Homo sapiens: one gene and its partner. The protein of the gene in region 1 purifies or fractionates together with the protein of each later gene. This does not show direct contact. Each region holds a gene or a part of one and is shown in the gene's direction. Other genes may lie near its edges. The genes, in order: BRIP1 and CIAO3.

Region 1 (3,816 bases):
TGAAGTGGGATTACAGCAGGATTTCTCTTTGCATTTATGAATATTCAAAAAGAATTATTTAGAAACATTTCTCTGAAAAAACTATGTTTTGAAGAACTTATGTGGGGGAATAAAATTATGCCTTGTGAGCTTTGAGAAGTGAACTTCAGATAATGGCATTTGTGTTTGTTTGCCTGGTTCTTTTTAGAGACATGCAATTGTTAACAGCATAAGACAAAAAGTGAATAATTTGGCATAGTCAATTGTTATTCCTGTCTTCAGATCTGACTGCACAATTCATCTCAGCTTTCTATTTCTTTAAGATCCAAATTAATAGGCATTATGTTTACTACCCCTTCTATCCTACCTCTTATTTGGTTATCTCTTAACTAGATCTCTTCCTTCTGAGACACTGTGCATATCAATGCCAGGTCAGTTTTCCAAATATTGCTTTTATTACATCCTTTTATCTGCCTAAAAATCTATTGCTTCCTTTGCTCATGAGATAAAGTTCATATTTCTTAAGCTTACACTCAAGATGCTCAATAGTCTGACCTGGATCTGCCCAATTTGAATCCTTCAAAAATTACCTCATACTCCCTTGAGGATACCTTGTTCTTTACTCTATCTTTGCTTTTGATGACACCTCTTTGGAATGCCCTGTCCACTCTTTGTCTGTCCAAATCCAAATCCTACTTATCTTTTAAACCCCAATATATTTCCTACTCTTCCATGGTTTTTTCTCAACTTTTCAGCTGTCTGTGTATTCTTACTTCCTCAAAATAACTCATTGACAATTGCTTTGTGACAGTTCCTTGTATTAGTCAGTACTCTTTCTATTGCAAGTGACACAAACCTACCCTAAAAAATGCTTAAGAAAAAATACTTGATTCTCTTTATTGTGATGGCTTTATTCTCAGGCAAGTTCTCACTCTTGCTTATGGAACAAAGATAACCATAAGCAGCTAGCTCACCTGGAGAAAAGAGCATGGCCACATATTAGTCCCTCCAAATTACTCTGGTTGGCCTACCGTGGATCACATGTCTGTTCCTGAACCTGAACCAGTCACTGTGACCACAGAAGGATGGAATACTCTATTTAACTGACAATCCTGGGCCTTACCCCCATTGTGAAAGTGGTGATGTCCTTTGATTCACAGGTTAATAGTCCTGCCAGCATCACATGGGAGTTGGAGAAGAACAATTCTCCAACTCCCATGTTGGAGAAGGATTGCAGGACAGATTAAAACAAAACATATATATTATGTTAGTATTTTAAGAGTCATTTTAATCTTGTATTGTTATTTTACTTTTAAAGGTTTTATGCTTTTAATCTTGTATTGTTATTTTACTTTTAAAGGTCTTATGCTTTTAATCTTATATTGTTATTTTATTTTTAAAGGTCTTATAATTAGTTTGTAAAATTATGTTGGAAACACTTTCATAGTGGGATTTTATACCTTTCTGTGTAGCCTGTGGTACCTTGATCCAGACTCACTGACATATTTTTGTTGCTGTCGATAGGTTTGCAAAGTATTTTAAGAGTAAAAAAATGGCAAACACAATAATGTAGAGCTGATATTTGGTTGGCCATAGTGCTTCAGAAGTTTTATTTAAGACCTAGAATCTCTGTTGCTTATGTAATTGCATTTGCAATATTGGCCTATAGTGTGAATTTTAAAATGAAATATCTTGCCTGCTGTTGTTAAATCTATTTTGCCAAATGTTTTACAAGAAAATTCTTTTATCTTATAGATGGATTTAAATCTGAAAGAACAGGTTGTCATTTTAGATGAAGCTCATAACATCGAGGACTGTGCTCGGGAATCAGCAAGTTACAGTGTAACAGAAGTTCAGCTTCGGTTTGCTCGGGATGAACTAGATAGTATGGTCAACAATAATATAAGGAAGAAAGATCATGAACCCCTACGAGCTGTGTGCTGTAGCCTCATTAAGTAAGAAGATTTGTCTATTAGTGTATTTGTGCTGCCTTTATATGAAAAATATGTTTGATTATGCCAGAGTATTTAAAGTTAGTAAACTTTGGTTAACTAGGCTTCTTGGGAAATGAATTGTTCCTTGCCAGTTAAGCTTTAAAAACAAGGCTAGTCCAACCTTTTGTCTTGTTCACAAGAATATAATGAACATAAGTGATTTTTAAAAATGAATAATTGTGAATCTTATTCCTAATTTGGCAGGATAACATAATAGCCCCGAAGGATGTGTCTAGGATATTGAACCAGAAACTAAACGTGCTTTTAATTAATATATTTTAAAATTCTGGATCATGGCTTTAATTTATTGCTTTATTCTCCAATTTAAATAGGATTCTAGTTTCATGGGTTTTAATTAATCAAGATTTCAGTACTCTAAAATAATATATTTAGTACTAGCTTTATGACAATTTACACTAATTTTTCTTTTATTAGACATTAAGTTGTTGATCTAGAATCTTGTTACCATAGAAAAAAACTTCCCAACTCTGAATCCCATTTCATTTATTGTAGCATTTTTCTGTTTCCTTCACATTTACACTTTAAAAAAATTTGAATGTTACACAGTCACATGGTTTGAAGACAAAATGTATACAAATTTGTATAGTAAAAACCTCCTTCCAGTTCCATCCCTGATCTGTTTAATGTCTGTGTTCTCCTAAACAAGTTTATCATTCAATGCATATTACTCATTTATGAACCAATATTAGATATATTTTCTTGTCCCTCACTATTTTCCAAATGATGGCATAGTATACATACATTTTTCTGCAACTTGCTTTTTTCAATTCCCAGTGTATTTTGGAGACCTTTCCATGTTAAGACCTAGAAAGCTTTCTCAGTTTAAAAAAAAAATAGATATCTAGAATTCCATTAGATAGATATGCAATAGTTTATTTAACCAGCCTCTGATTAATAGAGGAGGTTGTTTCTAGTTTTTTGCTCTTAAACTGCTATAATGAATAACTTTGAACATACATAATTTCATTTGTATGCAAATATATCTATAGGAATCTTTTTAGAAGTGGAATTGTTGGGTGAAAGCATAGACATATTTGTAATTTCAATAGATATAGCTAACATTTACACAATAGGTGGATGACAGGGGGGCTAATGTATGCTTCTACCAGCAATGTATAAGAGTATGGAAATTGTTTTCTTCTAGCCTGCTAGGTGAAAAGTGGTATCCCAATGTAGTTTTAATATTCATTTTCCTTAATATGCATGAAATTAAGCATCTTTAAAGGCCATTTATATTTCCTTTTGTGTCAACTGCCTGTTGACATCTCTGTCCTTTTTTTGTTCTTATTGTGGTTCTTTTTCTTAATGATTTATAGAACCCCATTCATATATTAGGGAATTAAAATCTTTGCCTGCAATAAGAGTTGTAAATACTTTCCACCCCATTTTGCCATTTGTGTCTTTTCTGGTGGTGTTTTGCCATGCAGATTTTTGTGGTTTTTATTTTACAGCATAACTTGTTGAAAGAGTTGTCTGTAGTTGCTAATTCTATTTTCTCACTTGACATTCTTCCCTCATCGATCTTAGCAGTGTTGCTCTCTGGACAATTCTACGCAAATTGTTTTGATCAAGATCACTAGTGATCTCTATATTGCCAAATACAGAGGTTATTGTTTCTTTTATCTCAGCCAGTCAGTGGTGTTGGGTAGTTGATGACTACCTCTTTGAAAAGCATTTTTGTCTTAGCTTCTGTGACATCTCTGATTTTCCTCCTTCTCACAGTCCATTTTTTTTTATCATTTCTTTTGATAATTCTTATTCTTTTTGATATCTAAATGTTGGGGTGCCTCAGGACTTACTTGGTACTGGGACCTAGTTTCTT
Region 2 (3,916 bases), on another chromosome or scaffold:
GAAAGTCCTGTCTGGCCGAGAGGAGCAGCTGCAGGTGATGGAGAAGGCCACACAGGCTGGTGGCCCAAACCCCACAGGCAGGTGCAGGAGTGCCCAGGCCGCATCCAGGTGGGGACATGTGGTCAGAATCAGGGCCTAGAACCCTGGGGAGGGTGCGGCGCAGGCTGGGACCTAGGATGTTGCCACTGTGAGATCTCCATGGGCTGAGCCTGCTTGGGCCGGAAAGATGCCAGCCTCGATCCAGGAGTTTCCTGAAAAGTCCCCATAAAACTGGCCATTAGACATGTAACTGGCCATATGATGCCAGATATACATGTAACTGGCCAGGCGCGGTGGCTCATGCCCGTAATCCCAGCGCTTTGGGAGGCTGAGGTGGGTGGATCACTAGGTAAGGAGTTCAAGACCAGCCTGGCCAACATGGTGAAACCCAGTCTCTAATTAAAACTACAAACATTAGCCGGATGCAATGGCAGGTGACTGTAATCCCAGCTACTCGGGAAGCTGAGGCAGGAGAATTGCTTGAACCCAGGCGGCAGAGGTTGCAGTGAGCCGAGATCGCGCCACTGCACTCCAGCCTGGGCAACAGAGTGAGACTCTGTCTCAAAAAAGAAAAAAAAAAAAGTGAGTCGGGGTCGGGCGCGGTGGCTCACGCCTGTAATCCCAGCACTTTGGGAAGCTGAGGCGGGCAGATCACGAGGTCAGGAGTTCGAGACCATCCTGGCTAACACGGTGAAACCCCGTCTCTACTAAAAATACAAAAAATTAGCCGGGCGTGGTGGTGGGCGCCTGTAGTCCCAGCTACTCGGGAGGCTGAGGCAGGAGAATCGCTTGAACCCAGGAGGTAGAGCTTGCAGTGAGCCGAGATCGCGCCATTGCACTCCAGCCTGGACGACAGAGCGAGACTCTGTCTCAAAAAAAGAAAAAAACGAAAAGCGAGTCGGCCCACAGGGTCCTGTTTCAGGGTCTCCCAGGGGCATGGACTTTTCCAGACTGGTCTCCAAGATAACAGAAAAAGGGGCTGGAGGCCCTGGGAGCGGCTCCCCAGGAAGGGGAGACCTCGTGCCTATCCATGCTTTCTTCCCTGCCTGAATTCCCCAACACGAGCTGAGCGCCTCCTGTGTGCCAGGCGCGTTCCGGGTTCTTGGGTTGCATCCGGGAGCACCTGGTCCGCAGGTACGCAGAGGATGAGGAAATGGACGGAGCCAGATCCCCTCCGCTTCCTTGTGAAGGCGGAGAGACTCCGGGGCCGGAGCTGCGGCGCTGGCCCGACCAACCCCTGCGCCCCCTGCACCCCAACCCGGGGCCTGGGGCGCGCGGGAGGTGGACGAAGCGGTAGGTCCCGGGTTCCCGCGAGGTGGGCGGGGAGCCGCAGCGCCGGGGCTCGTCAGCAGAGGGCGCCGGCCCCGGGACGAGGTGCGCATGCGTCCTGGGGGCGCTTTCCGGCAGCGTGGCGGAACCAGCCACTTCGTTTCGCGCCGTTTAGCGACACCTGCGCGCGGCGGCAGTGCGGCCGTCATGGCGTCGCCCTTCAGCGGGGCGCTGCAGCTGACGGACCTGGATGACTTCATCGGGCCGTCTCAGGTGGGCCGGCCTGGGCGGGCGGGGTCGAGGCTGCGCTCGGTGCCCTGTCGCGCGGAGGGAAATTGCTCTGCGCCCCACTTCCTCCCCTGAGGAATGAGATCCGAATCCCGGGAGCCCGGTCTGGGCCGTCAGGGACTCTATCGACCCGGGCGCGGGGCCTCAGACACTGAGGCCCGCTTCTTACCAACAAGGAAACTGAGGCCAGGGAGGGCGGCGCCCCCCAACCCGCTCCTGTGCCCCATGGTGTCCGGGCGGGCTGCGTGGGAGGGTCCCGTGGTCGCGGGCTCGCGCCGGCCTGCCCAACCCAGAGGAGGCAGCAGAGGCGGCTCCCACACATCCCTAACCCTAACCCGACCCCTGGGTCGCAGCTGGAGGGCGGCGGGGCCCGGGCCGGGGCCTCTTCCCCTTCCCCTGCGCAGGACGCCTTGTCAGGCCTCAGGACCCCCAAGCCACAGCCTTTGCATCTGCATAAACGGGTGCGGTGGGGACCCCACCTCATTTGAGGGCAGTAGGGGCGGCCCGCTAGACGCCCCGCAGTGGCTCCTCAGTAGAGCTGTCCTTAACGTCGCCCTGGTGGGCCGGACAGCTACCCTTGAACCCGGGAGGCTGCAGGCGCCCTTTTCTGGGTGCACCTGCCTGTCCATGTCCAACAGCCCCGCGGGGCCAGAGCTGAGCAGGGCGAGAGGCGGGCTGCTGGGAGCGCTTCCGGCAGGGATGAGCTGGGAGGCGGCTTTCTGGGCTGCCAGGGTTCTCAAGGAGAAGAGAGAGAAATCCACTTGTTTCCCGGGCACTGAGCAGGAGGTGGTCTCCAAACAGATCCAAGCACACGTCCTCTCGATGGGCAGTGCAACTCTGGTCTCTGTGGTGGTCACGCCCCCTGTTCACGTGAAGGGTGAAGGTCAGTGTTGGTGGTGTCTCCGCAGGTGGGTAGTTTGCAGGCGCTGTTAGCACTGGCCTTCCTGCACACTGGGAACTTCAGTGCCGCAGGATGTTGGGAACCCGATCCCTGGGTGAGAGCAGTGGGGCAGGAAGAAGACGGTGGGACCAGCCTCAGTCCCTGAGTGCATGGCTCCTGGCAGAGCCTTCAGGCTGTGCGGCTGGGCAGCCATCCTTGAGGCCTGGCCTCCCAGGGAACCTCCGCCCACTCACAGGGGCTGATTTGGGGTCTCTTCCTGCTCTAGGAGTGCATCAAGCCTGTCAAAGTGGAAAAAAGGGCGGGAAGTGGCGTGGCCAAGATTCGCATTGAAGATGACGGGAGCTACTTCCAAATTAACCAAGTAAGGCACAGGAGGCTGCTCCACCATCTCTCCTGCCCGGCTGATCCGAAACACTTTTCTCTGCTTCCTCCCGTCACAGAGCGGTGACCCCGAGACACTCCAGGTCTCACCAGTCTTTTCCCACTGGTCGAATTCACCTGCCATCTGGGAGGCTGGGGGTCAGGGTGCCTGGGGCAGGTGAATGAGCAGCACCCAGGCCAAACAGCTTGATCTGCTCAGCAGAGGGGCTATTTGCAGAGATGGTGGATCCTGTCTGCGTCTGCCTGTTCCCCCTAGTTCTAACCATGTAAGATTTTCTAATTCAGACCCCTCGTTCTTTTGTTTGTTTGTTTGTTTGTTTGTTTGATACAGAGTCTCCCTCGATGGCCCAGGCTGGAGTGCAGTGGCATGATCTCGGCTCACTGCAAGCTCTGCCTCCCAGGTTCACACCATTCTCCTGCCTCAGCCTCCCGAGTAGCTGGGACTACAGGCGGCCACCACCACGCCCAGCTAATGTTTTTTGTATTTTTAGTAGAGACGGGGTTTCACCGTGTTAGCCAGGATGGTCTCAATCTCCTGACCTCGTGATCCACCCGCCTTGGCCTCCCAAAGTGCTGGGATTACAGGCGTGAGCCACCGCGCCCAGCCCAGACCCCTCATTCTTAAAGAATAGTACTTCCTCTCTAAGTGATAAGATCCTGATGAAACTGTTAAAATTCAGGCTGGGCGCGGTGGCTCACGCTTGTAATCCCAGCACTTTGGGAGGCCAGGGTAGGGGGGGCGGATCACCTGAGGTCAGGAGTTCGAGACCAGCCTGGCCAACCCCCATCTGTACTAAAAATACAAAAATTAGTTGGGTGTCGTGGCGCATGCCTGTAATCCCAGCTACTCAAGAGGGTGAGGCAGGAGAATCACTTGAACCTGGGAGATAGGGACTGCAGTGAACCAAGATTGCTCCACTGCACTCCAGCCTGAGAGACAGAGACTCCATCTCAAAAAAATAAAGAAACTGGGCCTGGCGCGGTGGCTCAGGCCTGTAATCCCAGCACTTTGGGAGGCCGAGGCGGGTGGATCACGAG

What was found.
Region 2: the proteins of BRIP1 (region 1) and CIAO3 purify together in Homo sapiens (affinity purification with western blotting, with the first as the bait; one study listed by BioGRID). This does not show direct contact.

What each region holds. Positions count from the first base shown.
Region 1 is NC_000017.11:61,797,218-61,801,033, reverse strand, and holds part of BRIP1 (Fanconi anemia group J protein), read left to right. Parts: intron 1-1,734; coding exon 1,735-1,934; intron 1,935-3,816. UniProt on the Homo sapiens protein: DNA-dependent ATPase and 5'-3' DNA helicase required for the maintenance of chromosomal stability. Acts late in the Fanconi anemia pathway, after FANCD2 ubiquitination.
Region 2 is NC_000016.10:738,585-742,500, reverse strand, and holds the start of CIAO3 (cytosolic iron-sulfur assembly component 3), read left to right. Parts: upstream 1-1,503; 5' UTR 1,504-1,515; coding exon 1,516-1,581; intron 1,582-2,397; exon of another isoform or gene 2,398-2,479; intron 2,480-2,762; coding exon 2,763-2,858; intron 2,859-3,916.